Homo sapiens: one gene and its partners. The protein of the gene in region 2 interacts with the protein of the main gene of each other region in a biochemical or structural test. Each region holds a gene or a part of one and is shown on either strand. Other genes may lie near its edges.

The links.
Region 1: the proteins of USF1 (region 2) and TCFL5 form a complex in vitro, tested with the Homo sapiens proteins (one study listed by BioGRID).
Region 3: of the proteins of USF1 (region 2) and TAOK2, one has a biochemical effect on the other in vitro, tested with the Homo sapiens proteins (one study listed by BioGRID).

What each region holds. Positions count from the first base shown.
Region 1 is NC_000020.11:62,840,505-62,849,464, forward strand, and holds the end of TCFL5 (transcription factor-like 5 protein), read right to left. Parts: intron 5,644-8,960; coding exon of another isoform or gene 5,632-5,643; exon of another isoform or gene 5,614-5,631; coding exon of another isoform or gene 5,398-5,613; exon of another isoform or gene 5,199-5,397; intron 1,594-5,198; coding exon 1,471-1,593; 3' UTR 501-1,470; downstream 1-500. Other genes in the region: COL9A3 (collagen alpha-3(IX) chain), read left to right, coding at 38-228. UniProt on the Homo sapiens protein: Putative transcription factor. Isoform 3 may play a role in early spermatogenesis.
Region 2 is NC_000001.11:161,038,838-161,050,290, forward strand, and holds USF1 (upstream stimulatory factor 1), read right to left. Parts: upstream 7,141-11,453; 5' UTR 7,021-7,140; intron 6,148-7,020; exon of another isoform or gene 6,075-6,147; intron 4,524-6,074; 5' UTR 4,439-4,523; coding exon 4,431-4,438; intron 4,046-4,430; coding exon 3,996-4,045; intron 3,836-3,995; exon of another isoform or gene 3,834-3,835; coding exon 3,718-3,833; intron 3,381-3,717; coding exon 3,279-3,380; intron 3,010-3,278; coding exon 2,814-3,009; intron 2,575-2,813; coding exon 2,487-2,574; intron 2,036-2,486; coding exon 1,977-2,035; intron 1,834-1,976; coding exon 1,739-1,833; intron 1,494-1,738; coding exon 1,365-1,493; intron 1,173-1,364; coding exon 1,083-1,172; 3' UTR 414-1,082; downstream 1-413. Other genes in the region: TSTD1 (thiosulfate:glutathione sulfurtransferase), read right to left, coding at 43-52; ARHGAP30 (rho GTPase-activating protein 30), read right to left, coding at 8,878-10,497, 10,587-10,852.
Region 3 is NC_000016.10:29,975,288-29,986,929, forward strand, and holds part of TAOK2 (serine/threonine-protein kinase TAO2), read left to right. Parts: intron 1-2,450; 5' UTR 2,451-2,485; coding exon 2,486-2,617; intron 2,618-2,801; coding exon 2,802-2,873; intron 2,874-2,964; coding exon 2,965-3,066; intron 3,067-3,511; coding exon 3,512-3,557; intron 3,558-3,686; coding exon 3,687-3,783; intron 3,784-3,907; coding exon 3,908-4,021; intron 4,022-4,129; coding exon 4,130-4,221; intron 4,222-6,373; coding exon 6,374-6,467; intron 6,468-6,571; coding exon 6,572-6,653; intron 6,654-7,446; coding exon 7,447-7,614; intron 7,615-7,763; coding exon of another isoform or gene 7,764-7,784; coding exon 7,785-8,045; intron 8,046-8,215; coding exon 8,216-8,377; intron 8,378-9,925; coding exon 9,926-10,291; intron 10,292-10,370; coding exon 10,371-10,574; intron 10,575-10,977; coding exon 10,978-11,642. UniProt on the Homo sapiens protein: Serine/threonine-protein kinase involved in different processes such as membrane blebbing and apoptotic bodies formation DNA damage response and MAPK14/p38 MAPK stress-activated MAPK cascade.

The DNA of each region.
Region 1 (8,960 bases), on a different chromosome or scaffold from region 2:
GGCTGCAGCTGAACTCACCTTTCTGCTCTGTCCCAAGGACCCCAAGGCGTGCCCGGCACCAGCAAGGACGGCCAGGACGGTGCTCCCGGCGAGCCTGGGCCTCCCGGAGATCCTGGGCTTCCAGGTGCCATTGGGGCCCAGGGGACACCGGGGATCTGCGACACCTCAGCCTGCCAAGGAGCCGTGTTAGGAGGGGTCGGGGAGAAATCAGGCTCTCGAAGCTCATAAAATTCAACGTGAGGAAGCAAGTGACAAGGACGCCCGAAGCACAGTGGACGGTCATGAAGGAGCGGGGGTGTGGCAGGCGGGTGACGTCCAGGAGAGGGAGCGCCCCTGGCTGCCCCTCGGCCGCCGACTGGACGCGCGGGCCTTGCCAGCGAGCACCCTCATCGGGCTGTCGCCTGACAGCATACCTCAAAAGGCCCTAGCTAATAAACCTGTAAGCCCAGCATTTGAGAGAAGGTAGGGTGTGTATATATAAAAGGTTGTGTACAACTCCACGAGGTGAAAAATATTCAGTAACTTGTTTACATAGCATTTGTGTAAAGACTATGATCTCATCCCAATAAAATGATATATTAAACCTTCAGATTAATGACTGGCTACAGAGTAACAAAAAATAAAGAATTTAATGTACAGTAAATTCTCTCCCATACAAAGGTCTAGTCTGATGTTTTGTGTACAAACTCACATCTCCAATTAACAGTATTTATTGAGGGTGACTTTGTATTGCACTAACGTCTATTGCTATTACCTGTTGTGATTGATAAGTAAAGCCACTCATTGAAAAACCCAATTCCAAACACCACAGTTTGTGACACATGAAGTAATGAATGACTCTTGGTATGAAAACGTGGCATTTAAGCGTCTACTGTGACAGTATTTCATTTGTGGACAAAAGTAGCTTTAAAGCAAGTATCTGGAAAATTTTTAGCACACAGGTTTAAAATGGTCCTGCACGTTGCAATACAGCAGCACGTGACTCAGAGTCATGACAAGGGGGTGTGATATAACGAATGAAATAAAATTTCCAAACTGTTTTTAGTTAACAATTTAACTTGTTCCAATTGCTAAAGGGGCATATTTAAAAGGTAAATAAGTAAAAAGCCGTGTACTTTTTAAGATTAAAGAAAGTACAAAGGATGTCAATTTTTTAAGTTATCATGTTAAGAAAACATGATGGAATCAGAGCATTGAGAAAATGCTTACTAATTATTACTAATTAATTATTACTAATTATTAAGATGGCTTCATCCCCAAATGGTCTAAGAGGACATTCATGGATAAGCATTTGCGTCTAGATAAATATTTTTACAAAATGTGCTCTCAAAGTCCCTACTGGAGTCCCGTCAGCTTGAGTCACGCCCTTTTCGAGTCAGACTAGCCGAGCAGAGCTCCAGGGTTGCAGAAGGCGTGCACAGGTCACGAAGGAATGGCTGTTCACCCCCCGAGGATTCCTGTTCAGTCCGATCACTTGATCTCCATCGAGGGGCTGCTCTGTAAACTCCCCTGTGCAGGACAGGTCACCAAGGAGTCCGGTCTGGTCAGCTTTAGCCTTCGGCCAGTTTTACCGCAAAATACGCTCTCAAATTCCTGCAGTGAAGAAGTGACGGTTAACATACTGAATTAACTGACATGAAAACTGCTGTCTTCCAAAGTGCAAAAGGTTCAAATTAAGAGCTAAGTAAATGACTTTAGAATACGCTGTTTTAAGGTGTCATTCACAAACTTGTGTCTTACCTCACAAGGGGATTTATATAATAAACAGATTTTAACTTTTTTTTTTTCAAATAGCAGTTACACTGTACATGTACTTTTGTTTTTCCAATACTCAGAATGTCTGGCCACACTGTATTGATTTTATTGTGGTAAAATATACATGACATGAACGTTTCAACCGCTAATGGGCCCTAGCTAATAAACCTGTAAACCCAGCGTGTGAGAGAAGGTAGAGTGTATATATTAAAACGTTTCAGGCCGGGCGTGGCGGCTCACGCCTATAATCCCAGCACTTTGGGAGGCCGAGGTGGGTGGATCACCTGACGTCAGGAGTTCAGGACCAGCCTGATTAACATGGTGAAACCCCATCTCTACTAAAAATACAAAAATTAGCTGGGCGTGGTGGCAAGCATCTTGTGACCCCAGCTACTTGGGAGGCTGAGGCAGGACAATCTCTTGAGCCTGGGAGGTGGAGGTTGCAGTGAGCCGAGATCATGCCATTGCACTCCAGTCTGGGCAACAAGAGTGAAACTCCGTCTCAAAAAAATAAATTTTTAAAAAGTTTCAACAATTAACAAGTCAGGGGCATCTACCCCCACCCCAGGGCGACTGCCTTGCCCTCTGCACTGCCACACACTCAGGGTTCCAAGGCCAGCAAGGTGGAGGTGCTGCTCGCTGAGATGGCTCTGTCCTTGGGGAGACCCTGCCAGCAGGGTGGGGGTGGGCTGAGCTTGCTCCTGTCACACCACCTGTCTTTTACAAAAGGCCTCAATTATAATGGTGGGGTCAGTCTCAACCTCCCGAAGGAGACTGAGAGGAAGAGAGGGGCACAGGCGACGGCCCGATGACAGGCGCCAACCACCACGGGCAGAATGTGGAAACGTCTACGGGACAAATCATTCCCTTTTCAACAAATGAACGGTGAGGAAGAAAGGAAGGGGGAACTATTACGGGTTAAGATATATTTAAAAACTATCAACCAAATGTGATGTTTGGATCCTGATTCAAATGAGCTGACCGTAGAGACACCTGTGGGCTCACGGGAGATTCTGCTCAGATTCGGGAAGGAGACTCAGGTGGGTAATAAGGAGTGAAGGCTTTCAGGAAGGAGACTGATAATGCGGTTGTGTTTTTAAACAGGCCTTTTCTTTCGGAAGATATATTTATGAATGAAATGATGTCTGGAATTGTTTTAAAATAATTCAGCGGGGGTGGGAGGGCGAGGGGATAGGTGAAACAAGCTGATGCCTGAAACTGAGTTAGAGGGACCTGGGAGTTCACTTTCTATTTCTGTGCAGATTTGAAAATTTCCATAAGTTGGTTTTAAAACATAGCATTCTACACGATTAAATCCAGGTTTATACAGTTTTTATTGTGGTATTAAAATATAGCATAAAATTTGCCTTTTAAGCATGTGTAAGTGTACAGTGGAGCAGCGTGAAGTCCACTCACAGTGCTGTGCAGCCGCCACCACCTTTTCATCACCCTAAACAGAAACTCCGTACCCATTAAACACTAACTCCACACCGCTCCGGCCCCCAGCCCCTGGCACGTACCAGTCCACTTTCTGTCTCTCTGAATCTGACGGCTCTAGGTGCCTTGTTTACGGAATCCCGCAGGGTGTGCCCTGTTGTGACTGGCTTATTTCACTCAGCATAATGACCTCGGGCCATCCATGCTGTAGCCTGTGTCAGAATTTCATTCCTTTTCATGGCTGAGTAAGATTCTGTTGTGTGCTTGTAACACATTTGTTTACTCATTCCTCTGCTGGAGCACACTTGAGTCATTTCCACCTTTTGGCCACTGTGAAAGGTGCTGCCATGAATATTCATAGAAAAGCATCCATTTGGGTCCCTGTTTCACCTCTTTGGGGTTTATGCTTCTCTGGTGATTCTATGTTGAACCTTCTGAGGAGCTGTCATACTGTCTTCCACAGTGGCTGCACCATTTCACACCCCCAGCGGCAAAGCACAGGGATTCTGATGTCTCCACATCCTTGCCAACACTTGCTATTTTGCTTTTGTTTTTGTTTTTGAATAGCCATCCTAGTATGTGTAAAAGTAGTATCTCATTGGGTCTTGATTCGTATTTCCCTAATGACTAACGGCTTGGCGCATCTTTCATGGGCTTATTGGCCATCTGTGTATCTTCTCTGGAGAAATGTCTATTCAAGTTCTTTGCCCATTTTTCAGTTGTGCTGTCTTTTTTTTGGACAGGGTCTTGCTCTCTCAGGCTGGAATGCAGTGGCACATCCACGGCTCACTGCAGGCTCAGCCTCCCGAGTAGCTGGGACTACAGGTGCACACCATCACGCCTGGCTTTCAACATTTTTTTTCTGTTTTTTTTTGTTTGTTTTTTGTTTTTTTTTTTTTGAGACCGAGTCTCACTCTGTCACCCAGGCTGGAGTGCAACAGCGTGATCTCAGCTCACTGCAACCTCCACCTCCCTGCAACCTCTGCCTCCTGGGGTTCAAGCAATTTTCCTGCCTCAGCCTCCTGAATAGCTGGGATTACAGGCACCTGCCACCACACCCGGCTAATTTTTGTTTTTTTAGTAGAGACAGGGTTTCACCATGTTGGCCAGGCTGGTCTCAAACTCCTGACCTCAGGTGATCCACCCACCTCGGCCTCCCAGAGTGCTGGGATTACAGGCGGGAGCCACGGTTCCCAGTCTGTGTAGTCTTTTTGTTGCTGAGTTGTAGTAACTTTCTACTTAATTCAAGTCCAGGAGGACACAAGCGCCATGCTGCCATGGATTTAACTTCTGAACCACCTGGAGTGACTGGAACATTCCACCCATCCACTTTTAAGCAACTTTCCAACCAAGCAAGCTGCCATTTCCAACTACTGTGTGCACTCAGAATCTACACCTGCATATAAATATACTCATTTTCTTCCCAATTTTTTTTTTTTTTGGATATGGAGTTTCACTCTTGTCGCCCAGACTGGGGTGCAATGGCACGATCTCAGCTCACTGCAACCTTTGCCTCCTGGGTTCAACTGATTCTCCCACCTCAGCCTCCTGAGTAGCTGGGATTACAGGCATGTACCACCACGCCCGGCTAATTTTTGTATTTTTAGTAGAGACGGGGGTCACACCGTATTGGCCAGGCTGGTCTCGAACTCCTGACCTCAGGTAATCTGCCCACCTCAGCTTCCCAAAGTGCTGGGATTACAGGCGTGAGCTACGACGCCCAGCTTCTTCCCAAATTTTAAAAGGTTTTAGGATGCAATTTAAAATGACCCCACATTTTGATAATTTCCTATATTCTGACACCTAAAGCCTACATATAAAAAACACTTGCCTATTTGGCAAGATAGAATTCACCTTTCAGGACAATTAAATGAAAGTCAGAGCCTGGGCCGGCTCCGGAGAAGTTAGACCCTCGGAGCTGGTCTCGGACTGCTGGGGCGTCACCCCTTCAGCAACCCCCGCTGACCATGGCAGTATTTCATGACGAGGTGGAAATCGAGGACTTCCAATATGACGAGGACTCGGAGACATATTTCTGTCCCTGCCCATGCGGAGATAACTTCTCCATCACCAAGGAAGAGCTGGAGAATGGGGAAGGTGTGGCAATGTGTCCAGGCTGCTCTCTCATTATAAAAGTGATTTATGACAAAGATCAGTTTGCGTGTGGAGAAACAGTGCCAGTGCCTTCAGTCAACAAAGAATGAGTTAAATGCTAAGGAAGCCTTCAGGAATCCGAACCCTGAACAGCTGGAAATGAGCCCAGATAGAAACTTCAAATGCAAAGCTCCTGGCTTCGTGGAGACACAGCCATTTGTGATTTGCTGTTCTGTAGGCGTGTTGTGGATTCTTTCCATCAACTGCTGATTTCATCTTCAGGAAGCAAGTCCATAACATGACGTATCTGGAGTTTGTGCTTAGAACCTTAAATTGGAAGCATTCTTAATTATCCATCTAAATTTAAAAGACGATAATTTAAAAAAAAAGAAGGAAGGAAGAAAATAATCATCCTCAGACATAACTAGGCGCTCGCAAGATCTTCTGAACTATTTTCACACAGTGATGAGGCTAGTCCCGGCGTCTGCCTTCACTATGAACAGTTGGGCAGAGGCAGGGTTGAGTTGTGGTTCCATCTGGACCCTTGCAGGGCCCGCCCACGACCCGTCTCCTGGGAGCTGGGGCAGCTGTGAAAGAGAGGAGCAGATCCCCTTAGTCCTCCTCAGCTGAGCCCAGGCCAAAGACGTGGTACTGATGTCATCGCACTCTCAATCTGCACCTCAATCCAAATGCATCTATTTGCAACAGAACATATGTGAAATCGTTGAGTTTTAAAGGAATTTTTATAACATCAAAACATTGAGATGACAACGTCCCAAAGCAGATACTCATGTTAGATTTGTGAACATGAGAAGAATAACAACAAGACGGGTGCGGTGGTGAGGGGCGCCTACGGTCCTAGCTACTCGGGAGGCTGAGGCAGGAGGAGCACCTGAGCCCAAGAGGACGAGGCTGCACTAAGCTGTGGTTGCACCGCACTCCAGCCTGGGTGACAGAATGAGGGCCCCTCGCTGGGAAAAAAAAAAAAAGAGAGAAAGAAAAAGAAAAATAATAATACCAACAATAAAAAAAATTTTCTTAGTAAGAAAAAAGAAATAGCTCTAACTATGAGTCAGGAAAATATACCAGGAAGTTATTAAGAGGAAGAAAGCGGCCGGGTGCAGTGGCTCACACCTGTAATCGCAGCACTTTGGGAGGCCGAGGTGGGTGGATCACCTGAGGTCGGGAGTTCACGACCAGCCTCACCAACATGGAGAAACCCCATCTCTAATAAAAATACAAAATTTGCCGGGGTGGTGGCACATGCCTGTAATCCCAGCTACTCAGGAGGCTGAGGCAGGAGAATTGCTTGAACCCAGGAGGCAGACGCTGTAGTGAGCCAAGATCGCGCCATTACACGGCAGCCTGGGCAACGAGTGAAACTTCATCTCAAAAAAAAAAAAAAAAAATTACAAGCTATTTAAAACTGAGAAACAATGAAAGCATTGTGTCCTAACCTGTGAAATGTTTCAAAAGCACACCAGGACAAATTTACTATAATGCATTGATTAGAAAACAACATAGACAAAATAAACTTTCAACCCAAGATACCAGAAAAAAATAAAACTTCAAGAAGGAAATAATAGAAATAAGGTTTTGGGATAATAAAGATAAGAGCAAATTATGATGGAAAAAGCACTACCACTGACCCCACATAAAAAACCAACAAAGTGAATGACTGAGCCCCAGAAAGACTCCAGCACGGCCCAGGCCAGAGGGGTACAGCAGACCAAGGAGCTCAGGTGGCCAGAGGTAAGGAGGCATAAACTCATTAGGACAAAAAGAATGGCTTTTCTTTTTCAAGATGCTTTATTTTTAAAACAGGTCACAACACAGCGTTCGGCTCATTCTGCCACGAACAAGCTACAAACGCTTGCTCTGCAGCCGAGAGGCCCTCCAGTGGCCATGTTCAAAAACAGAATGAAAATCCGTATGTAGGCCAGGCGCGGTGGCTCACGTTGGTAATCCCAGCACTGTGGGAGGCCGAGGCGGGCGGATCACCTGAGGTCAGGAGTTCGAGACCAGCCTGGCCAATATGGCAAAACTCCATCTCTACTAAAAATACAAAAATTAGCTGGGCGTGGTGGCGTGACCAAACGGCATGGGAGGCCATGATCACAGGCTGCTGGGAATGGATCCAAGAGAGGATGAAGTGGCTCAGGAGGTACAGACAAGCGCCGGGCAGCCGGGCAGCCAAGGAGAGCAGAGAAATGGGCGGTTGCCAGTACAGGACACGAGGTCCAGGGAGTTCTCACAGAAGGATCACGGGAGAAGTCACAGCGTGTCCGCAGGAAAGGAGGAGAGAAGGGACAGGCCAGTCCGAGTCTGCAGCAGGGCCTGACAACAGACAGCACGTGAGGGACAGCGACACCGGGGCCTGATGCAGATGGCAGGGAGATGCGAAGCGGGACTCAACCACCTGCTGGTGTGAAGAAGGGAGGGACAGACACCACAAGGGAGGCCCCAGGAGTGGCTGGCACCTTCAGGGCCCCCAGCGTGCAGGGGCATCTCACAACTAAACACAACCAGCGCCCCAGACGCCATCCCGACTGGGGAAAAAGTTGTAGTGGGCACTATTGAGACAGCAGGCAAAATGTGAATAACAGTCTTGCACCAATGTTAAATGTCCTGATTTTCATCGTTGTGGATATTAAAAAGTCAACACGGGGGCCGGGCACAGTGGCTCAAGCCTGTAATGCCAGCACTTTCAGAGGCCGAGGCGGGAGGATCACCTGAGGTAAGATCGAGACCAGCCTGGCCAACATGGCGAAACACTGTCTCTACTAAAAATACAAAAATTAGCCGGGCGTGGTGGGATGCGTTTGTAATCCCAGCTACTCGGGAGGCTGAGGCAGGAGAATCGCTTGAATCCAGGAGGCGGAGGTTGCAGTCAGCCGGGATCACGCCATTGCACTCCAGACTGGGTGACAAGAGCGAGACTCCGTCTCAAAAAAAGTAAACACTGGGCCGGGTGTGGTGGCTCAGGCCTGTAATCCCAGCACTTTGGGAGGCTGAGACAGGCGGATCACAAGGTCAGGAGTTCAAAATCAGCCTGGCCAACATGGTGAAACCCTGTCTCTATTAAATACAAAAATTAGCTGGGTGTGGTGGCTCAATGGTAATCCCAGCACTTTGGGAGGCTGAGGTAGGCAGGATCACTTGAGGTCAAGAGTTTGAGACCAGCCTGGCCAACATGGTGAAACCTGGTCTCTACTAAAAATACAAAAATTAGCCGGGCATGGTGGGCCATGCCTGTAGTCCTAGCTACTCAAGAGGCTGAGGCAGAATTGCCTGAACCTGGGAGGCAGAGGTTGCAGTGAGCTAAGATGACACCACTACACTTCAGCCTGGGCAACAGAGCGAGACGCCGTCTCAAAAAAAAAACACGGAAGTATTTAAGTATAAAGAAGCATGGTGTCTGCAGCTTACTATCAAATGGATCCCAAAGATACCTGGAGAGAAACTGGGACCGGCAGGGAGAATGGAGCAAACCCGGACAGGCCTACAAAGAGCTCTTTGTACTGTTCTTGCAATTTTTCTGTAAGTTTGAAATTACACCAAAATTTAAAATTACCAACAGTAAATAGAGCCATCTAAACCCAGAATGTGGGGCATTCTCTAGACAACCGGCCTGATCTCTTCAAAGCCTCAATGCCATAGTTAATAACTGTGGG
Region 2 (11,453 bases):
AGGACCAAGAGAACCGCGGCCCCAGGAATCCCCCGCAGGTACCTCCAGCCATGGTGCGCGTAGCAACCGCGAGTCTCCGGAGTGCGGCCCTGGCCCGCCCTCTCGGCGCCTGCAACATCTCCCGTTCCCTCCCAGAGCTGAGACCGGATCCGGAAGCAAGGGCACCGCCTCCCGCGCCGCCCCCGCAGCACCTGTTCGCGGCGCCTCTAGCACCAACCCACCGCAGAAGCCCTTAACATTCTCTAGCTTGGGCCAAAAACGACACACCGGTCTGGCCCAGGAACCAGGACTCCGGGTAATAAATGCAGGAGCAGCACCCCACCCTGAACTTGGCACAGCCCTTACTGGTCGAAGAGCAATGTGCCCCTCCCTTCCAGCCCGTGGCCCACAAAAGGAAGAAAAACAGACAACTGTGGCTTTGAACAATTTTATCTTAAAAAAAAAAAAAAAAAAAAAAAAAAAAGAAAAGAAAAAAAAAAAACGACCCCCACAAGGGGGAAGGCCCCAAGTGGGCCCCTGCCTGTTGTTCTCTCTGGCTCCAGAGATGTCTGCATAGGCCTCAGCTTCTCACTGGCCAATCTCCTCTTCATGGGCACCAGCCACTGCTAAACATCCTTCCCTCACTTCTTGTGTAAGCTTGCTCCCCTGAGCCACAGGTTGCACATCTAAACCTCAGCTCCAGGGAAAGGAAGAACCAATGGAAGTGCCAGAGTCCTGGGGCAAGCCAGAGCATCACCTGTCAGCAAACCTCTGCTGGGCACTCTAAGCAAGCACAGGACAAGCCCCAGAGTTTAGTGTGTCCAGTATCCAGCATGGAGACAGCACATGCATTGTGCGAGAGGAGCACAAGGGCCCAGGGGCTGCATGGTGGGGGTGGGCAAGGCTGTCAGTGCACGTCCACATTGTGTGTTTCACACCACTGCAGGCCGCCATATCACAGGGCCTCAGTTCAAGGACACACCTTCTGAACTTCCCCCTGTCCCATGCCAGAAGTGGGGCAGTGAAGGAAAGGGGCACGGGATTAGGCTGTTGCTCCTGGGCTATCTGCAGTTCTTGGGCCCAAAGCCCCTGAATCCCCATAGTTAGTTGCTGTCATTCTTGATGACGACCTCTAATCCGTGGTGCCGCAACTGAGCTCGAAGCAGCAGATTCTTGTTTTTAAGATCTTCCACCTGACATGGGAAGGAGGCAGTAAAGGGAATGGGTAGTAAAGCTGGCACTTCCAAGCCCCTGAATGTATTCAGACATCCACTGGTGAGGGGGAAAAGATGAAGCCTTCTCCATGGAGAACAAAGTAGAGGGTGTCAAACTGGGTCAGTGGCTAGCAGAACTGAGAAGGGCTGCACTGGGGGTAGGAGTCTGACCTGTTGTCGAAGCACGTCATTGTCCAGCTGCAGTTGGTCAAGTCCCTGCAGTTCTTCAGACAAGCGGTGGTTACTCTGCCGAAGCTCCTGGATATAATCACAAGCTTTGGATAGAATCCCACCTTTACTCTGCAAGATAAGGTCAACAAAATGAGAACTAGGATTTCAGATACCCAGCTTGCTTTCCAAAAGTAGGTTCACACTTTGGACCTCATTTTCATCTAAGGAAGGTGGTATAATATCTCCCAGGGATACAGGAACCTCAGGGAGAGATAAGACTACTGTCATGTGTGCCCCTCTCTCTACCATTTCTGGAAACAATACCAGGAGGCAGAATTCAGGCATCCTGCCCACTACCAGGGTCTTTCCATGACCTGGCCAGACTTGGTGCTCTCCATAGAGCAGTCTGGGATTATCTTGGAGAGCTGCACGATCCAGTTGTTGATCTTGTCTCGGCGGCGACGCTCCACTGTGGGGCAAAGTGGAGGACAAGGTGACTCAGTGAAAACTCGCCACAAGTCCCAGGGTAAAATTACCTAATCCCTCCTCCCCTCAGACATCACTGCTGAGATCACACCAGACAGCTTCTAGCTCCACCCAGATCATACCTACCTTCATTATGCTGAGCCCTGCGTTTCTCATCCCGAGTCGTCCGGGGAGCTTCTGACTTCCTGACAACAGAGCCCAGGGTGGCCAGAGTAAGAAGACAAAATACATGATTGAAGTTTGGGGTTAAGGAATTATACAAGATTTAGCAGGTATTAGGACCACTTATGGTAGCTAGGTGTGGTGTCTCACACCTGTAATCCCAGCACTTTGGGAGGCCGAGGCAGGCGGATCACTTGAGGTCAGGAGTTCGAGACCAGCCTGGCCAACATGGTGAAACCCTGTCTCTACTAAAGATACAAAAATTAGCCAGGGGTGGTGGTACATGTCTGTAGTTCCAGCTACTCAGGAGGCTGAGGCATGAGAAACGCTTGAACCCTGGAAGCAGAGGTTGCAGTGAGCTGAGATCATGCCACTGCACTCCAGCCTGGGTGACAGAGCAAGACTCTGTCTCAAAAAAAAAAAAAAAAAAAAAAAACCACTTACGGAATCTGAGAAGAAACAAGGGTCACTCACGGGGAATAAGGGTGAGTCCTAGGGGCAATTGAGCGCTGGCTTCCTCCCTGCAGTACTTCTTGTGGTGACATCATCACAAAGAATTGACCTGTGAAGATGCAGGGTAGGTTCTGTCAGGACATGGGTAGGAACCTCACCAAGCCCTGAGGTGAAGACCCTGGTCCCCTCCTCTAAAAAGAACATGCTAATAGAAGAGCAGCCCCAGACTCACTGCCTGTCCAGGTCTTAATGATCACTAAGAGTCATGAGTGAAGGCTCACTGCCTACCAGTCATGTCCCACAGCCTATTCTAGCCCTTTCAGCCAGCATCCTCATGCAATATCTCACCAGTGCCAGGAGGGGTCGCCTGCCCCAGCAGTGCCTCTGAGCCCTGGGTAGTAACAACAGCAGCTGTACTCCCCGATGTGGTACCCCCTGCCCCATCTCCCACTGCCGTGCTGGGGAAGTAAGTATAGTGCGTCTCAGCAGCTGTCCCCTCCGTGTCAACTGCATCATCACTGGTGAAAGCACCCTGGATCACCGCCTGGGAAGGGGAGCAAGAAAACTGATTCTGGTAACAGTCAAAAACTTCTTCCCACTACACCACTCTGCAGCTTCTATCCGTTGGGGTGGTAGGTAGGGTGGAGAGAGAGAGAGAGAGAGAGAGAAACATCCAGAAAAGGAGAGCCTAGTGCTTTGGGACAAGGCAGCCTTAGATGCCTCACTGTTCCTAGCTTCACCCCCATCCTACTGATTCCCTTCTTCATCTTACTTCTCAGAACTCTAGTGACCTCCCCAGCCCATACCCTGTACCTGGGTCATGGATTGAGTGGCAGGGTAGCCACTGATGGCGCCAGTTCCCTCAGTTTGGCCATCCAGCTGCCCCTCAGACACCTGGATCACCCTGTACATCACCTAGAAGTGTAGAGGAAGGCAGAGGGAGTGAAGAGAGAAGAAAAGATTAAGTGTTGGGAATCCTAGGGCCCCTCATAAAGCTTCCCTTGGATAGGGCCCCAAAACAAAGTCCTTCAGAGACATGGATTCAGCCATTCTCCCTTCTTTCCCCACACAGAGGTTTCAGCATACATCTAACCTCACACCAGTCTCTACTCCAGTATTAGCACCTCCCTCCCCTGCAACAGTCCACTCTTTCAACTCATCCTCCAAGCCAGGTCTCCCCAAGACATGTTCAATTACCTCCCTCAATCCCAACCCCAGATAACACCTGCAGCCACCTGGCCCCCTCCCTTACCTGGCCCCCATTCTCAGTTCGGAAGACGTACTTGACGTTGGGGTCAGGGAAGGTGGCAGCTGACTGGATGCTGGCAATAGCCACACTGGTTGGGTCTTCCCCAGTAGCCACTGCACCTGAATTAAAAGAACAAAGGAAAAGTCTGTGAGTTAACTGCCTTTCTACCCCCGTTCCATTTGCATGTCACGGAAGGAGGAGGATGCACAGGAGATGGTCTGGTGGGGAAGGAAGGGAGGCCATGATGGGTTCTTAGTCTTGGTTCTGTTTCTAGCACTCACCTTCCTGAATCTGCACTGTCCCCTCTTCCGTTTCAGCTGTTTTCTGCTGCCTGTTTGTGGTGAAAGGACAAAAGGAAGAGTATGAGAAGAAGTCAATGAGAAGCTCACTGGCCCAGTAACATATGGCTGCAAACTCATTGGCATTCCCAACAGAAGCTGGGTTAGGTTAGAATAACAACTAGTGTTTACTGTTTACTATGTACATAAGCACTAAGCTAAGTACATTACATGTAATCTTATTTAGTACTAAAAACAGCACCACGAGATAGATAGCACTACTTCCATTTTATAGATAGAGAAACCAAATCACACAGTAAGTGATAGAGTAGAACCTGAATCCAGGTCTGCCTGACTCCAGAGGCAGTGCTCTTGGTCATTTTGCATTCTTCCAGGCCACCCATCTTTCATCCCAGACCCTACCTCTTCTTCACTCACCCCTTCATCTCTCTGTGAGGGGGCACATCCGAGGAACTGGTCCTTTTTTGGAGGTCTTTGTATCTCCTGATTCACAGGCCTGAGTGCTAAGTCCTGGTAGAAATCATGAAGTTTGCAATGAGTTTAGGAAACAGAACAGTATCTCTGGTTCTAGAACTTAGGTTCCATGAACACATAGCCAGGAAAATAACCCAGTCATCTGCAGGGGACAATCAGCCTCCACCATACTGATGTTGAGGACTGGCCTACAGTGATTGAAAAAGCAAGGCTACAAATAGTGTTCCCCATCCCTCCATTATCACTCCAACTCCTGGTGGAGAGTGGATAATTATACTGGAAGACAGAAACAACACTTTTTTTTTTTTTTTTTTTTTGAGACAGAGTCTCTCTCTGTCACCCAGGCTGGAGTGCAGTGGCGCGATCTCAGCTCACTGCAACCTCTGCCTCCCAGGTTCAAGTGATTCTCCTGCCTCAGCCTCCGGAGTAGCTGGGATTACAGGTGCACACCACCACGCCTGGCTAATTTTTGTATTTTTAGTAGAGACGGGGTTTCACCATGTTGGCCCGGCTGGTCTCGAACTCCTGAGAGCATGATCTGTCCACCTCGGCAGCCTCCCAAAGTGCTGGGATTACAGGTGTGAGCCACTGCACCTGGCCGAAACAACACATTTCTTTCTTTTTTTTTTTTTTTTTTCTGAGACAGAATCTTGCTCTGTCACCCAGGCTGGAGTGCAGTGGCACAATCTCGGCTTACAACCTCCATCTCCTGGGTTCAAGTGATTCTCCTGCCTCAGCCTCCTGAATAGCTGGGATTATAGGTGCCCACCACCACGCCCAGCTAATTTTTGTATTTTCAGTAGAGATGGGGTTTTACCATATTGGCCAGGCTGGTCTGGAACTCCTGACCTCAGGTGATCCGCCTGCCTCGGCCTCCCAAAGTGCTTGGATTACAGGCATGAGCCACCGCACCCAGCCAACAACACATCTCTAAATGGATCATTAAAGCTATTATGACCTGCCATGATGGCAGCTTCATGGGAATCAGGAAGGGCCATGTATTGGCCCCACCATCAAAAAATACAGTGTCATGGACACTGATGCTTCTTCCAGTTTCTCAGCCACATGTTGTCCATCAAGACATTTCTGTTTTCAAACCTAGGAAGAGGAAATCTGAAGCCCACTACCACTGGAAGAATATCCCTGACCACAAAGACTAGACTTGGCATTTGGGCCCCATTCTACTGACAGGACTCTTGTTTTGGGGTATCCAGATTTATATAATCTGTTAGAAACCCTAAAGCCCAAGTGGATCCTCTTCAAGCATTCTCTATTTTATTCATCAAGCCTTCCTGCAGAACAACACTGTTGCTAAAATGTTGCTATGACAACTCCAAATCAACTAAGCCTGAGCAAGAAGGGGTAAAAAAAAAAAAAACAGGGTTCTGAAGAAGAGACAAAGGGGGAAGAATCCACCTACAAGCTCTGCCTTAGGACCCTGACACCCAGCCAGAGGGCAGGAAAAACAAAGAGCTGGGCAGACATGCCTCCAGAAAGAAACAGCTACACAGTACAAAGCAATAAGATAATCCCAACACAAAAGGGGCAAGATTTTTGGAAATTCTCTACCCATAAGGTCCTCCAAACCTTTCCTATCCAAGGAAAATTTTCAATGGATAAGCCTCGGAAAGACCGCGTCCGAGGAAAATGTTGAAAAAGGAACTGAAAGTGAAACCGTACAGACGAAGTAACGCTGCAAGGAGATCCCAGTCGATAAGGGGAAGTAGCACTAGTGTTTTGGGACCACCTACATTTCCATCTTCAAACCTGAAGAGGAAATGCCCTGCGAAGCTTGCCGCGCTGACTGCAGGGGAAGGCAATGAAATAGAGGGCCCGGCACAGGAGGCATCTCTATTGGCCACAGCTGTCAGCCGGGGCAGTCTCTGAGGACACCCAGCAACGGGGTCAGGGTACTTATTCAAATCTTAGTTGGACATCCGGAAGCATTTCCTAGGCATTAGGGATCGGTGACACGGAAACAGGGATGGGACGTTGTGGTGTGCACGCTCAGGCCAGAAGGGCCCAGTAAGAGCCCTTGCTAAGTCTGGACACAAAGGGAAAAAAAATCAACTCCCGAAAGAAGTCAGGCACCTAGACCTTGCCTTAGAATGAGGCGTCTCCCTGCAGGCTCACCAACCAGAAGGCGCTTACGGAGCTGAGCGCCCGCCAGGCGCGAGCCCGGGAGCCTGCGCCGTGACCCCGCAGCCCCGCAGTCTTAGCCCCGCGCCCCAGCTGCTCCGCGGAGGAGGCAGGAAAGGGCCTCGGGGACTAGGGAGCTCAAGCGCCCGGTGCCGGCGGCTGCGGCGCGCAGCTGGACAGCGCAGGAGGGCTGGGACGCTCGCGCTCTGGGGAAGGGAGAGAGTTTGGCCCACAAAGCAGGGTATGAGATAAAGAACCAGCACAGCCCCCTCCCCCAAAACAAAGGCTTCCTCCCCAGCAGTGTTCTCTAACTTGAAAAACGGAAACAAAATCAAAGCTGCCCTGCCTTGCCAGTCCACCCAGTTTCCAGACTTCTGCCCGGTCCTACACTCACCGGCCAAGGCCGTCTCAGCTGCCGATTTTCTCCAACTGTGTTCTCCCTCTCCCGGCCTAGGTATCTCCATAGACAGCTGCTCATGCGCACTTCCAGCCCGCGGCCATGTTGGTGAGGGGCGGAAGTGTCGCTCTCGCCCCGCCCATAAACTCAAACTCAGAACTGCCCCACTTCCGCTCACTCCATCTTGATGAGAGTTGGTGTTTGTGGGTTATTTGTGAAGCCGGAAAGAAGCCGTGTCCTGGAGAATGTAGCTGAAGGCCTGGCCACTTTCGACAAGAACGGGAAAGAGACGACTAACTTGTACTAATATCTTAGTGCTTGGCAGGGCATTTTTTCATTCCAGGAAAGAAGAGAATCCAGCTGAGATCAAGGGAGGGACGTCCGACGGAGGCGCCATCTTTAACAAGGGCTATTTGGGAGGCCATCTTGGCGCAGGGCGTCTTTTTGAAAGGTTACCTGCTAGAGATTACGACCTATCGGGGCATGCATAGAATTGGATATGTTCCTTGTTATTCGCGTCAGCAGTCACTCATCCAAAGACCCCAAAGCTTCTAGTGTTCTAAAGGCTCACACCTTCTGTGACAGGAATCTTGATTCCCATTCTTCTCAATCAAGACCTACCCTGAATGGATTTGGAGTAGTGTGGTATAATGGGAAAAATTCAAGCTTGGGGGCCAGGCAGATCCAGGTTTCAAACCCATCTCTGCCACTTCTTACCTCTGAGACCTTTGGCAAACATTTTGACTTAATTGAGCCTTAGTTTCCTCATCTATAAACTGGAGATACTAGCACCAACCTTCCAGAATTGTGTGGATTAAATAAAATCAAGGACATAGATTTTGTGAGCACAGGATACTTAGTCCAGTTCCTGGCACATAATGAACGCATTATGTAAATATAAGTTTCTCTTCCTTATTTCCTGACCACCATGAACCTAGCTCTAGTTTCTGGCCACTAGTCTCCATGACAACAACTGAGGAAGAGCACCCAAACAAGAAGAAGAAAAAGAATGTTTTGCCAAATATGTGAAGATATAATACCTATCACCAAAGACTTTAATAAGAATAATGAGACTCCACACTATGTGTAAAAATACAGCTTTTATTCTGAGACATTGACCTTCACTAGAGTGGGACCTGTGGCCCCAGCCTGGCTGGAGAAGCAGTCCCAGGGCCTGAGTGACACCATTTCCCTTTCCTGAAATAGGAACAAGTTATTCCAAAGGAGAAAGGAGAGCCCAGAGAGATCTGTACAGGACCTCTCTTGCACATGGTGACTGGAGGCAGAGGGTGGGGAGCTGGAGAGGAGTCCAGTCCCTCCAACAAATATTGAGGGCTTCAAAGAGCTCTTCCTGGACGTTTCTCTTAATCTGGATTTAAAAGGGACAGGAGGTATCTTAGGGTCCAAGAACATAACAGGAATGGGCAACTCTAGAAGTGTTTGTGTGTGGAAGGCCCTAACCTGGCCCTGTCCTCCCTGTCTCTACCTTTGGCTTTCATGAAGAGAGATTCACAGCTCAGAGGAAGGGAGGAATTTCTCCAGTCTTCACTTTAACAAACTCTTTTAAGTTTTCTGCCTACCTTATGTTCCCTTTGGCCAATGACCCACTCCCTGGGAACAAGATCTTGTTGACTTTCTTGGGAATCTCCTAAGAGATAAGTGCTTTGTGTCGGAGACAAGTTCAGGTAAACCAACCAAGGCAGTGCCTCCCACAGTCAAAGAGAGAAGCTGGAGGGCCAAAGCCTATAGAGTTGGGCACTACAGCTGCTCATGCTGCAGAGGAGACAGCTAGTCAGGAACCCTGGAGATTCAAGACAACTTGCTGGTCCCCTTTGCCCAGGGCTGTGGTCCTAATCACAGTCCTTCACCTTTCCCAGGGTTAGCCTGTGTTTCAAATGCATATGACCTGCGCTGAGAGGACAACAGGGGGTCAGGAACCTGGGGTTCTCTGGGGGGCAGACTAAGACGACTCCGGGATCCAGACCCTTCTGCACCTTCAGATGGGAGCTCCAGGCAGCTAAGGGGCCGAGGAGAATGGGCAGAGATCATGCTACAAGGGGAGGTTCTGGGGATGAGGCAGTAATCCCCACCCTCAGTACAGGTCTGGGTTCGCCGAACTCCTTGAGCCTCAGTCCTTTGGCGGTCCCGGGCTAGGGCCACAGCAGCATCAAAGGAAAGACTACCCCCATTCCTCCAAGAGGATCGAGAAGCTCGGGACCCCCAAGCCCTTTCTCCAGGAGTCCCATCAAGCCGGCCAGGCCTCGGGCATGGATTTGCAGGTGCCACATGAATCTTGCTACACATTGCACTGGGCATCTTGGCAAACTGTGGCTTGGGGGGCACCACAGGCACAGAGCGGACCTGTTGGACCTGAACCAGAGTGGAAGCTAGACGCATGCCCACGCCACCCAGGCCAAGAGAACAGGGGCATAGACAGCCGTCTGGACTGGGCTGCCCCTCAGGCTCCATCTCCTCTGGCTGAGGTGGCTGTGGGGCTACCTCTTCCATCTCAGAAGAGTGAGGATTGCCCTCTTTGGCACAGTCAACCTCCAGGGACGCTACACCTGAACCTTCAGAGAGGGTGTCCTCTTCTAAATAGTACCCTCCAGCCCTCTGGTCTCCCTCAGCCTCTCCATCCCCACTCTCCCGTTCCTTGCTGACCTCCCCTGCTCCTCCTTCAGTTGCTGCTTCTGGGCTTCTGCTGTCTTCACCATCTCCTTGGTCTTTTCTTGCTTCATGGTACCCCTTCTCCCTCTGTCCTTTGTCCTCATCCTCTCTGACTCCCTCAGCCTCTTGTTTCTGTACAACTTCCCATTTCTCCTCAGCAACTTGATCTTCCTGGGCCCCTTGCTCTAGGTCCCTTCCAGCTTCTACCTGGGCTTCCTCTCTTTGTTCATCCTCTTCTCTCTCAATTTCTTTTTCCTTCTCATCTGTATACTCATCTCCTCCTGGTTCCTCCACACCTTTAGCCTCCATACTGTCAGCCTTCTTCTGACCTTTGGACTTCTCTTCCTTGGCCTCTGTCTCTTCCCTACTCCCTTCTCTCAATCTGACTTTTGTCTCTTGGCTTCCCCCAGCCTCCCCTCTATCCTCACTGGCCTTTCCAGCCTCCACCTTGGTCTCTGGACTTCCCTCTGCCTCTTCCCTGATGTCTAGCCTGCCTCCAGGCTCAGCCTGCTTGTCCTCCCCAACTTCCCAGCATGCCTGCTCTTCCCCACCCTGTCCCAGAGCCTGCCTTCCACATCCTGCTGCCTCTCCCTCCAGACTCCCTGAACCCTTCCAGATTGGGGGTTTAGGTCCCAGAAGGGGACTTAGGTCATCATAGGCACTCAGGAAAACTTCCTCCCCATTTTCCTCCTCAACTTCAGGCCTGGGGCCAGCGGAGTCCAGGGAACAGCAGCTGGGGGCCAAGACAAACTGTGCCTCATCCAGAGACAGGTCATCCAGGGGTGGCTCCACAGAGAACTCCTCCACCTGTAGGCACAGCATTGTGACTCAGGACCAGGAGGCCCTGTCCACCCTTGACTCCATGCCACCCCCAAACCCAGCACGGCTCTCCTTACCTGAGGCCCAACTCCCAGGAGCTCCTCCAGGTAGCCCATCCCAGGGTCGTCCTCCCCAGGGGAGAAGGCTGCTCCTGCTGCTTCTGCCTGGGCCACCTCCCCATCCTCTGCCCCCACCCACTCAGGTTCTGAGCTGCTTGAGTCCTCTAGGAAGGAGAAGGAGTCCTGCACCTCCTGGGACAGCGAGTCCTCCAGGGCAGGAGCCAAGTCGTCTGGGCCTGAGTCTGCCAGGGGACTTGAGGCTGGACTTGCTTCCAACTTTTCATCTGTTGGGGGAGAAGTAGTCCCAGGAATACAAAGGTCAAGCCCTGACCCTTTTCAGTGTGAGTCCTCCTAGCATTGATATAGCAGGGGCCCAGCACTCCCAGCATTGCTACTCTGCATGACTGATCCTTTCAGACCAATGTCCCTAGTTATTGGCTTGCTACCTTAATTGAGACCCTACCAGGTGCCAAGCACTGTGCTATGTATTTTACAATGCATTGGCATTTTTTCCTCCAAACTATTATGTGGGGTATTGTCCTCATTTTACATATGAGGAAACTGAGGCTCAGAGAGATTAAGCAATTTGTCTAAGGTCATGTAATGAATAAGCAGTACAGCCAAAATTTGAACCCAAGTCTACTTAACTCTATAGCCCATGTTCTTACCCACTATCCTATCCTGCCTCAGGACTTCTCATGAGTGACACTTCAGGAACTGGAGTCAGAGCAAGGATCAGATCCTAGCTCTGCTACTTCTACCTAAATCAATTGCAAATTGATTAACCTAAGTCTCAGTTTCCACTGCTGTAACATAAGGCTAACAATACCTATGTCATAAGATTATGAGAAAATGAAACAAACCAATCCTGCAATCACAGCACTT
Region 3 (11,642 bases), on a different chromosome or scaffold from region 2:
CACCCTGTGGGGGCCTCTTTTATTGGCATCTTCCCATTTTACAGTTGAGAACGTTGAGGCCGAGAGAGGTTGCCCAAGGTCACACAGTGGCAGAACCAGAATTTGAACTCAAGTCCTCAATCACATCTTTCCCTGATGCATGCCTGGTTCTTGCCATCTCTTTTCCTCTGAGTTTGGGCTCGGCCAGGGGTCCCTAGGAGTCCAGGCTGGGGTGAGGTTTAAGAATGGGGATGAGATGAGCTTCCTTTCCAGGAGGGCTCTACTCAGAAGCTTTTCCTGATGGGAGCCTCTGGCTTTTGCCTCTGCCTCATGGAGTTTTCTATCCACTGTGACCTTCATCTTTACCCCAATCCCAGGGTTTGGCCTGGATTCCTGAGAGGGCTCTCTCCTGACAAATGGTAGCACTAGTGGCATCTTTTAACTGTTCAAGCCAAGCTGTTGGGGTAGAATGATCCCCCAAAGGATTAAAGCTTTGTGGGGACCTTGGAGGCAGGGAAGGAAAAATCCATATGCTGAGTGTCTGCATGGTGTTCCTAAGTATGAGATCTCATTAAAATCTTAACAACAGCTCCATGCTGTAATCCATTTCACTGAAGAGAAGACCAAGAACTGGAAGGAACTTATTTAAAGCCCTGTTGCTGTACATTGCAGACGGGATGTACTGGTAGCATAGCTTAGGAACAGATAGATACGGGTTTCCTCATCTGTAGAATGGAGATAACATTGTTCGTTTTGGAAGGTGGTTATGATTTAGCACAGACCTTGGTTATTGTTCAAGTGTTTGTTGTTATTATGGGGAAGGGGACCTGCATGATGTTTTGCCAGTGGGTGGCACCCCTCCGTGTGGCCTAGGTTAGCATTCTGGGGCCTTGTGTTGGTAAAGAGGTCAGGAAGATTCCTTTGGCAAGTTGAGAGCACCTGCCTTTGTGTGTGGGTGTGTGGTGCTGGTGAGGGGTGCTTGGCACTGTTGCTGGCAGAAGGGAGAAAAGGGCCGGCTTTGAGCAACCTGCGAGCTGCTGAGGGCTGAGCAGAGAGCAATCACTCAGTCTCCCAGGCTATTCTGAGCCCTCTGCACCCTGGGGGCCCACTGGAGAGTCAGGCTCCCTCCTTGCCCTCCAGCTTCCAGTTGGGCTGAGACAAAATTAACAACACAACAGGAAACAATGCATGACAGAATAAATTACATGCTAAAATTGTTAGGTGCTTTTGAGTAGCTAGAACTCTGCCCCAGGAGTCCAGCTCTGCTGAAGGCTCCTTTGTGCCTAAATTCTGACAAGTGCTTAGGCTGGAGCCTGTCTTGGAATCTCCTTGAGGGTTTTGGTTCTGGTATCCTGCAGGAACTTTCTCCGGGTGTTTGGTTGGGTGCCCTAGGTGCTCTTCCCAATGGCTGGAGTGGTCAGGACAGGCTTCCTGCAAGAGGGGAGCTGAGCTTGGGGTGACAGCTGAGAGAGTAATGGATACAGGCCTAACCGGGGAGCCGAAGGTCCTGTTCTCTGACCTTGGAGAAGTCCTTTTTCTTCTCTGTGCCTCAGTGACCTCACCTAGGAAATGGTGATCATGATTCTGCCCTGCCTGTTTCGAAGGGCTGCTCTGAAATCATAGTGATGGAGGACCAGCTTTGGACAAGGCACTTAACCTTGCTGAGCCTGTTTCTTTATCTGTAAGATAGGGGAAATCATAGTACTTGCTTCATAAGGTTGTAGTGAGGACTGAATAGAGATAATGCACGTAAGGTACTCAGTAAATGTTATTTGTACCCTGCAAATGTCCTGTACCTGTGTGTGATGCTTATGCAGTTGGACAGGACAAGTAAGGTGGCCCAGAGCACAGAGAGGCCCTCATAGCCAGATGCCATTTATATCCCTATTCTTCCCATTCTAGATCTCCCCCTGACTTTTTTGAGAGTGACTTTGCGGGCTCCTCTGGGCCAGTACCCACTTCTAACAATGGACGGATTTCCACCGCCTCCGGCCTGGCCATTTCCTGTTCTCTTCCAGGGTGTGAGAGGTTGAGGGAGGAGGGGGCCTCAGCGCCAAGGGGAACAGAAAGGTGCCTGGAAACAGTTGGGGTATAGGACTTATGGGACAGGACACTTGGGGCTCTGGAGTGCTGGCTGGGAAGCAGAATGTTTTATCCTTGAGGGGAGATACAGGGGCTATAGGGAAATGAGAACTTGTTGAGCACTGAAGGGGGTGGTGAGGATACTTAGCTTCCCAGAATCTTCCTAGCAGTTTTAGGGACTCCAGGGACCCAGCCCGCGTGATCTGGTTGCCAGGGCAACTTCATTTTTTGGAGCTTTGATGTTGTTCCTAATCTCCCCCTCCCCTTCCTCAGCAGTGCCTCCTCCTCATCAGGGAATGAGGGGAGGAGATGGCAGAAACTTGATGGGTCCCTTCCTCTCCCTGAAGGCTCAATCCTTGATCTCTAAGGGTCCCATTTCCATTCCTCAGGCCAGGCCCCACTCTCAGGGCCCCCAGGGGCCACCATGCCAGCTGGGGGCCGGGCCGGGAGCCTGAAGGACCCAGATGTGGCTGAGCTCTTCTTCAAGGATGACCCAGAAAAGCTCTTCTCTGACCTCCGGGAAATTGGCCATGGCAGCTTTGGAGCCGTATACTTTGTGAGTTGGGTCTTGGGAGGGTGTAATAGGGATGGGGACTCTTCCTATCCCTGTGGACTTCCCAACAGCCCTTGCACACTACTCCATCACACTGGTCTTTCCTGCCTTCTCTTGCTGGGCCAGCAAGTCTTCCCATGCCCGGCTCTCAATGGGGCCTTCAACACCTTCTGGTCTGGTCCTCTAGGCCCGGGATGTCCGGAATAGTGAGGTGGTGGCCATCAAGAAGATGTCCTACAGTGGGAAGCAGTCCAATGAGGTGGGCCAGGTGCAATACAGCCAGGTTGGGGACAGGGGACTCCTGTCTCAAGATGCAAGCTGGGTAACCTCTGCCTACCCTGACCCCCTAGAAATGGCAAGACATCATCAAGGAGGTGCGGTTCTTACAGAAGCTCCGGCATCCCAACACCATTCAGTACCGGGGCTGTTACCTGAGGGAGCACACGGCTTGGGTGAGCTGGTGCCAGATTCTGGCCTGATCTTTACTCCTATTCATGCCCGTCCTTATCGTAGTCCAGTCTCTTAGGTGGTCCCTGTTCGTGGTGCTGTTGTGGGATCTTGGGAAGGAGGAAGTCTCTTTTGACCGCTTTAGTCCTCAGACATACCCACTGAGCAAAAGCCTGGCTCAGTGACACAGGCTGTTAGCAGGTGGGACAGGTCACTGTGGGCTGGAGAAGGTGGAGATTGAATGGGAGTTTGAAGGGATTCAGATGGGCAGTGGTGAATGTCTTGGGCCCAGACTCTAGAAACTCTCCCACCACCCCCTCATTGTCTCCAGTTGCGCTTCCTCCCTGTCATCACCCCGGGGACATAGCTTGAGTACAGGACAGTCAAGGAAGCTCTGTTTTGAGTCCCTGCCCAGGAGACTCTGATCTCTGACCCTTGTCTCTTCCTTAGCTGGTAATGGAGTATTGCCTGGGCTCAGCTTCTGACCTTCTAGAAGGTAAGTGACTGATAGGCCAATAAGTGGAGAAGGGAGAAGAGCAGGGGAGCCATAGGGAAGGGTTAAGGGGAGTTTATTCCAGTCCCACCCTTGCGCTCCCTCGGGTTGATGTTCTTCCTCACTCTCCAGTGCACAAGAAACCCCTTCAGGAGGTAGAGATCGCAGCTGTGACCCACGGGGCGCTTCAGGGCCTGGCATATCTGCACTCCCACAACATGATCCATAGGTACAAGCAGCACCGGCAGTGCCTGGGAGGGGAGTGCTATCTGCACCACCTGTCACTTAGCTGGGCTGCCCCTGCCTAGCTTTCTTGAGACACATGTCTCATCCCTGTACTTTGCCTCTGGCAGGGATGTGAAGGCTGGAAACATCCTGCTGTCAGAGCCAGGGTTAGTGAAGCTAGGGGACTTTGGTTCTGCGTCCATCATGGCACCTGCCAACTCCTTCGTGGGCACCCCATACTGGTGAGTGAGTGAGTGGTGGTGAGTGGAGAGACCTCCCAGGGATGTTGGGAGTAGGAGTGACAGGGTCTCGGCGGGTGATTTGCCTCTCTCTCCTGACCATTCTCCTAGGATGGCACCCGAGGTGATCCTGGCCATGGATGAGGGGCAGTACGATGGCAAAGTGGACGTCTGGTCCTTGGGGATAACCTGCATCGAGCTGGGTAAGAACATCCTCCCTGTTCCCTCATCATCTTTTCCATTCTTTCCTGTTAGTTCCCAGACTCCGGACTACCCCCTTCTCCTAGGGATGGGATCCCAGGCCTCCAAGTTCCTGTCCGTTGTGACTCTACCCTGGAGCCCAATACAGGCAGCTGGCAAATTCTGCCAGCTCTTAGGCCTAGAGATTTTGTAGCATTCATCTCTTCCTGTCCACTACCCTGGTTCTGAATCTTTTCTTAGTGCCCACCATGTGCTGTGCCATGGACTGTGATTCTGGAGGGATAGCAGTGAATGAAAATCCTGCCCTCATGGAACTTACATTTGATTTAGGGAAACCAGGCAGGCATGTTTTCTTTCAATGTGATGAACGCTGTGTGGAGAAGTTACAGGAGCGGTTCAAATGTAAAACAGGGGACTTGACCTAGTTTAGGGGCTGAAGAAGGCCTCCTTGTAGGAGAATATTGAAGCCAACCTGCAAGATAAATAATAGCTGTTTGCAGAATGTAGGGAAGAGCTTTCCAGGCAGAGAGAACAGCATGTGAGAGGCCTAGAGGTAAGTGCAGGCCTGGGGAACTGGGACTAGCTTCAGTTATTTGGAACCTAGCATGTAATGCAGAGAATATTGAAGGATAAGGCCAGAGAGTTAGGTCCAAGTGAGTTCCTAAGGCCTTGAAGCCATGCCAAGGTTCTCATCTCTGTCAGCCAGCACTATTGAAACAATTCTTTAATGAGGTAGGTAACCTTTATAAGGCTTCCAACACAATGCCAGGCACAAAACAGTTGCCTAAGAGTTGCTGTTAGTTTCTCTTATCAACAGCCTCCTGCAGTGATCTCTCCAGTCTCTTCTCCCTTCCAGTCTGTCTTAAGTACTGATGCCAGAGAGGTCTGCCTAAGCTCAGTGCTGTCATTTCACTCCCTGTTTGGAGCCATGAGTGGCCCCCTGTTGCCTTCAAGACTGAAGCCATCCCCATCCTTCCTCCCACCAACCTAGAGGCTTTGCTTCGTAAATGCTGGCCCTTTCCTTCATGGGCTCCACCCTCTGAGTGTGTCATGAACTCTTCCACTTCCTTGCCTTGGTTCGTATTGGGTCCTCTGCCCGAGGTCAGAGATTTGGACGAGCCCTTCTCCTCCATCTTCACAGTCTCCATTTACCATTAGATGCCAGGCCCAGACAGTTGATGAAAAATGTAAGAAACGGACCCAAGTATAAGAAAAAGCTAGATCTGTCCATTTTATTTCTAGTTTTTGGAAGAGATGTGGATACAGAGAAATATTACTCTACTATTGAAAAAAATATATATCAGTCTGATTATAAATGTCAACTCATACTAAGTCAATATCAGGGAAGCAGTGTGGAGAAGGATGTGGCAAACTGGAGATTGCTGTTTCCATAGAAAGAGGGCAGCTAATGCTTATCTCCAGACCATTGTTATGCAGTAATGTAGACTCCATTTCACCAGATTTAATTCTTAAGGAGAAACTGGAAACTTGTATTATTATTTGATTATTACTTTTGGCAGTTAATTTTAAAAATCACCGTTTAGGCCAAAACAACATGACATTTGTCTGGGCTACAAGGGACTCTTAGCGACTCTTAGCTTGCACTTACCTTTCTAATCTCAGGGCTTTTTACAAAGCCCTTCTCTGAATTCCCTGAAGATATGCTAGCTTGAAGGCTCACTGCATACTCTCAACTTCCCAGCCACTTCCCTGTTTCCCTCTTATACCAGTTAATACTTTGATGTTATTTTTTCAGTCCTATTTAATCTTTTAGACTGGAGGTTCCTTGAGGGTGGGGCCTAATTCTTGTTTTTATCTTCCCCATAGCAATTATCAAGTTATCTGCTCCCTTTGGCACCTAAGAAATATTAGTTGGGGTGATAACTGAATGGCTGTCCTTCTGCCTTCGTTACTGCTTTTGTGGATGTTATTTTCTTTGACCCCTATTCCACCCGTGTGCAGTGGAGAGGATGGGTGTTGTATTTTACAGAGGAAGGAATTAACTGAGACGCAACAGGATGATGGGAACTTCTCAAGGTCATGTGGCAAGGAAGTCAAGGAATTGGGGTTTGAACCCAAGTCGTCTCAGTTCCATTCCATTGTCCTCTACCCCCTGCCACCTCTCACCTTCTTCCCTTTCACCTTTTTCTGTAGCTGAACGGAAACCACCGCTCTTTAACATGAATGCGATGAGTGCCTTATACCACATTGCACAGAACGAATCCCCCGTGCTCCAGTCAGGACACTGGTGAGGACTGAGATTCCGAATCTGGGCCCAGGCGTTAGGCCATGGGGTATGGATGCCTGACTCATGCCTTCCCCACCCCTCTCCCACCCTCCTGTGACTTTCAGGTCTGAGTACTTCCGGAATTTTGTCGACTCCTGTCTTCAGAAAATCCCTCAAGACAGACCAACCTCAGAGGTTCTCCTGAAGGTGAGGGCCTGCTGGCCTAGCATTCTCCTGGAACTGTAGCTTGTTACAGCCACAAGAACCCCCAGGGAAATTAGTGGTTCCCAGTTCCTCCTCCACCAAGAGCTTCGTTGATGAATTCCCACCCCATCCCCAATGCCTAGTGGACTCTGTGTTTTACAAGATTTTGTCTACCAGACTGCCTTAATTTATTAAGTAATAAACTGTTTTCCCTTCTTTTATTAATCAAAGATTTATATAATTGCCAGCCAGAGCTTCTGGTCAGCATGTGATAACCAGGGTTGCCCCACTGATCTGATGTAATGCAAGCCAAAAGCCTGTGTAGCCTTATCATGGGTAAATGTATGATTTCCCTTAGGTGTTTTTTGAATTATCAAAAATGGAGGGGCCCCATTCCCTTCACAGACCCATGGGGGCCTGAGGAGCCGTAGTTGGAAACTTCAGATTATGTAGTTGGACCCACTTGTTTTATAATTGTAGGATACTGTATGAAGCCCAGAGGGGCCTCATGACATGTCCAAGGTCACATAGCCCTTTAGTAGAGGAGCTGGACGAGAATCCAGTTCTCCTGACTGTCCCTGCCTGTCAGCCATGCTTAGAGGAAGAAGAGTCTGTCTGGGGAGTAGGTACTGGGTGGTACAGAAAATTGTGAGAGAAGGGCTTGGGATAAGGCCAGCATCAACCCGTGGTGGGCGTGGGCCCCAGAAGAGTGCCTCAGGCCTGAGGGAATGCCAAGGGCTGTGGGTTGTGGGGGGAAGGGGAGTTGGCAGCAGACCTCAGTGCCCTCTTCCCCCAGCACCGCTTTGTGCTCCGGGAGCGGCCACCCACAGTCATCATGGACCTGATCCAGAGGACCAAGGATGCCGTGCGGGAGCTGGACAACCTGCAGTACCGCAAGATGAAGAAGATCCTGTTCCAAGAGGCACCCAACGGCCCTGGTGCCGAGGCCCCAGAGGAGGAAGAGGTGACCCAGCTTGCCCTAACACCCCTCTTTATACCCCATGTGTGCCTGCCCCCTGCAGTTGCTTGGCCCCTTCCCCAGCCCTACTCACACCACCATCTTCCCATGCTACCTCCATGCATATGCCCCAGGGCTTCCCCTTCCCTGTCCAGCAGCCTACGCCCTGTTCGCAGGAGGCCGAGCCCTACATGCACCGGGCCGGGACTCTGACCAGCCTCGAGAGTAGCCACTCAGTGCCCAGCATGTCCATCAGCGCCTCCAGCCAGAGCAGCTCCGTCAACAGCCTAGCAGATGCCTCAGACAACGAGGAAGAGGAGGAGGAGGAGGAGGAAGAGGAGGAGGAGGAAGAAGGCCCTGAAGCCCGGGAGATGGCCATGATGCAGGAGGGGGAGCACACAGTCACCTCTCACAGCTCCATTATCCACCGGCTGCCGGTACACAGCTCACCCTTGGGGGACCCGAGCCACCTGCTCTAGAACTGCCTGGGTCTTCGCCCTCCTTCCCTAAGTGCAGCACTCCTCTGAGTCTGATTGGCTGTCCTCAGGTAGCTCTCTTTGGACCCAGTGGCCTCTGAGCCTTGGGTGTTCCTTCTATCTCCCTCTAGGGCTCTGACAACCTATATGATGACCCCTACCAGCCAGAGATAACCCCCAGCCCTCTCCAGCCGCCTGCAGCCCCAGCTCCCACTTCCACCACCTCTTCCGCCCGCCGCCGGGCCTACTGCCGTAACCGAGACCACTTTGCCACCATCCGAACCGCCTCCCTGGTGAGTGTAGCCATCCTCACTCAGCCTGCTCGCTGTCTGTTTTTTAAGTCTTTTTAAGTCTAGAAATGATTTCCTCCCTGTGGCATGGGATTGAGTCTGGATTCTACCCTCATTTTCTGTTGCTGGCTCCTGCCTGCTCCCCTTAACCCTCCTGCTTCCCTCCTCTTCCCAGTGGACTGTTTTGGTCATATGGCCCAATCTGGGTGTTTCTAGCTTGGCAAACTCTTACTCCGTTTTTGTGGCCTGACTTAACTGACATCTCCTGGGTTGCCTTCCCAGGCTCCTCTGGTGAGTCAGATGCTTCACAGTTGTGTGCTGGGGAAGCCCAGTGCTGGGGGAGCCCTGTGCCTGTGGAGCCCTGTGCTGGGGGTGTCCAGTGCTGGGGAGCCCTGTGCCGGGGGTGCCCTGTGCTTGGGTGGTCCTGAACAGCATCATGATAGGTTTGCCAGATTCTGTGCCCCAGAGGGCAGGGATGGTGTTCAGATATCTGTCTCATGCCAGCAGTTAGCTCTCAGGCTTACACACAGGCCTGTGTTAACCCTCCCAGCCCCCCTGGGAGGGGAAGGGTAAGATCCCATTGGAGAAATGAGGCACCTGTGGCTCAGAGGGGCCACTTGCCCCAGTGCCTTTGGTGGCTCTCTGCTCCTGTAAGCAGGCCCTTAGTCCTCTCCTAAAATCAACTCATGGCAGTCTTTCTCAGTTCACAGGAAAAAGTGTTTAGGCTTTTCATAAAACATAGTTTTTCATCTATGTTTTTAGATCACGTTCCTGCTGAGCTGCATTTGAGCGTCAACAATCCCCTTAGAGGCCACTGATTAAGTCTAGTATGTTCTTATGGCCTCTGCTTGGTGCTGGTTGTGTTCCAACAATTCTTCAGATCCCATGGTGTTGTGCGGTACTGTGCTGAGAGGTCTTGACTGCCAGGGGCTTGGCTGCCGGGACTAGTTTGAGAGCCACTCATAGAGTCAATTGAGAATGAGACCTGAGATCAGACTTTGGATGAAGGTGTCCAAGCCCAGTGTTCTTGTTATTCCAGCATCTTGTGGCCCCGATCCCACCTCAATACCTGGGGAGTGATAGGCCGACCATGTTTGCTGAAGGGGAAGGAAGCCAACACTTATTAGATAGAGTCCGAACTTACCCCACAGCCCCTATGAGGAGGTATTATTTCCCCATTTAACAGATGAGGGAACTGGTGCTTTGAGAAGTTAACTTACTTGAGATCACATGCTTGGTAAGTGGCAAAGCTGGGATTTGATCCCAGGTATGTCTGACTCACTGTTTCAAATTAGTATGGATTGTTCCTACTTTTGTGCCAGGCCCTGTGCTCGCCACCTTTTATCATTCGGCCACACCAACTTGTGATGTAGATAATATCACCATTATCCAGTTGAGGAAACAGGCTAGAGTGGCCGTGTGTGAGGAAGGTGTTAAATGAGAATGAAACCCATGAGTTGAAAACCCATGCTCTTCCCCACGGAAGACCCCTTGTGTTAATTAACTAGGGGCCAGGCTGAGCCCCAGCTCTCACCCTCTCTCCTTCCCCAGGTCAGCCGTCAGATCCAGGAGCATGAGCAGGACTCTGCGCTGCGGGAGCAGCTGAGCGGCTATAAGCGGATGCGACGACAGCACCAGAAGCAGCTGCTGGCCCTGGAGTCACGGCTGAGGGGTGAACGGGAGGAGCACAGTGCACGGCTGCAGCGGGAGCTTGAGGCGCAGCGGGCTGGCTTTGGGGCAGAGGCAGAAAAGCTGGCCCGGCGGCACCAGGCCATAGGTGAGAAGGAGGCACGAGCTGCCCAGGCCGAGGAGCGGAAGTTCCAGCAGCACATCCTTGGGCAGCAGAAGAAGGAGCTGGCTGCCCTGCTGGAGGCACAGAAGCGGACCTACAAACTTCGCAAGGAACAGCTGAAGGAGGTGAGCTAGGGCTGCTTGGGGGCGGAGCCGATGGCGAGCCAGGTGGGTCCTGACCCTGCTTCCCTCTGCACTCGCCCAGGAGCTCCAGGAGAACCCCAGCACTCCCAAGCGGGAGAAGGCCGAGTGGCTGCTGCGGCAGAAGGAGCAGCTCCAGCAGTGCCAGGCGGAGGAGGAAGCAGGGCTGCTGCGGCGGCAGCGCCAGTACTTTGAGCTGCAGTGTCGCCAGTACAAGCGCAAGATGTTGCTGGCTCGGCACAGCCTGGACCAGGACCTGCTGCGGGAGGTAGGCATCCCAATCTCTGTTCCCCTCCCGCTCACTCGTGGATCCCAGGGACCCACCCTTTTCCATTTTCCTCATTCTTGTCTTCTTTCTCCTTGGCCCTCGAGTGTTACAGTTCAGCTTTGCTTCAGTGCCCCTTTTACTTCTCATCCCCAACAGACCCTGCCAGAATTTCCTTAGGCCTCTTTTCCCAGGCCAGGGAGGAGCTTGCCTCCCCTACACCCTCATCTCCTGCCATCCCCAGCTCCCTCTGCCAAGGAGCCCTGGCCCCTCACTTCCTTGATACTGACCAGGCCCTGGGCCCTGTGTTTCTTCCGCCATCCCCAGCTCCCTCTGCCAAGGAGCCCTGGCCTCTCACTTCCTTGATACTGACCAGGCCCCGGGCCCTGCATTTCTTCTGCCTCAGGACCTGAACAAGAAGCAGACCCAGAAGGACTTGGAGTGTGCACTGCTGCTTCGGCAGCACGAGGCCACGCGGGAGCTGGAGCTGCGGCAGCTCCAGGCCGTGCAGCGCACGCGGGCTGAGCTCACCCGCCTGCAGCACCAGACGGAGCTGGGCAACCAGCTGGAGTACAACAAGCGGCGTGAGCAAGAGTTGCGGCAGAAGCATGCGGCCCAGGTTCGCCAGCAGCCCAAGAGCCTCAAAGTACGTGCAGGCCAGCGCCCCCCGGGCCTTCCACTCCCCATTCCTGGGGCTCTGGGCCCACCCAACACAGGCACCCCTATAGAACAGCAGCCCTGCTCACCTGGCCAGGAGGCAGTCCTGGACCAAAGAATGCTTGGCGAGGAGGAGGAAGCAGTTGGAGAGAGAAGGATTCTGGGAAAGGAAGGGGCCACTTTGGAGCCCAAGCAGCAGAGGATTCTGGGGGAAGAATCAGGAGCCCCTAGTCCCAGTCCACAAAAACATGGGAGCCTGGTTGATGAGGAAGTTTGGGGTCTGCCTGAGGAGATAGAGGAGCTTAGGGTGCCCTCCCTTGTACCCCAGGAGAGGAGCATTGTTGGCCAGGAGGAGGCTGGGACATGGAGCTTGTGGGGGAAGGAGGATGAGAGTCTTCTGGATGAGGAGTTTGA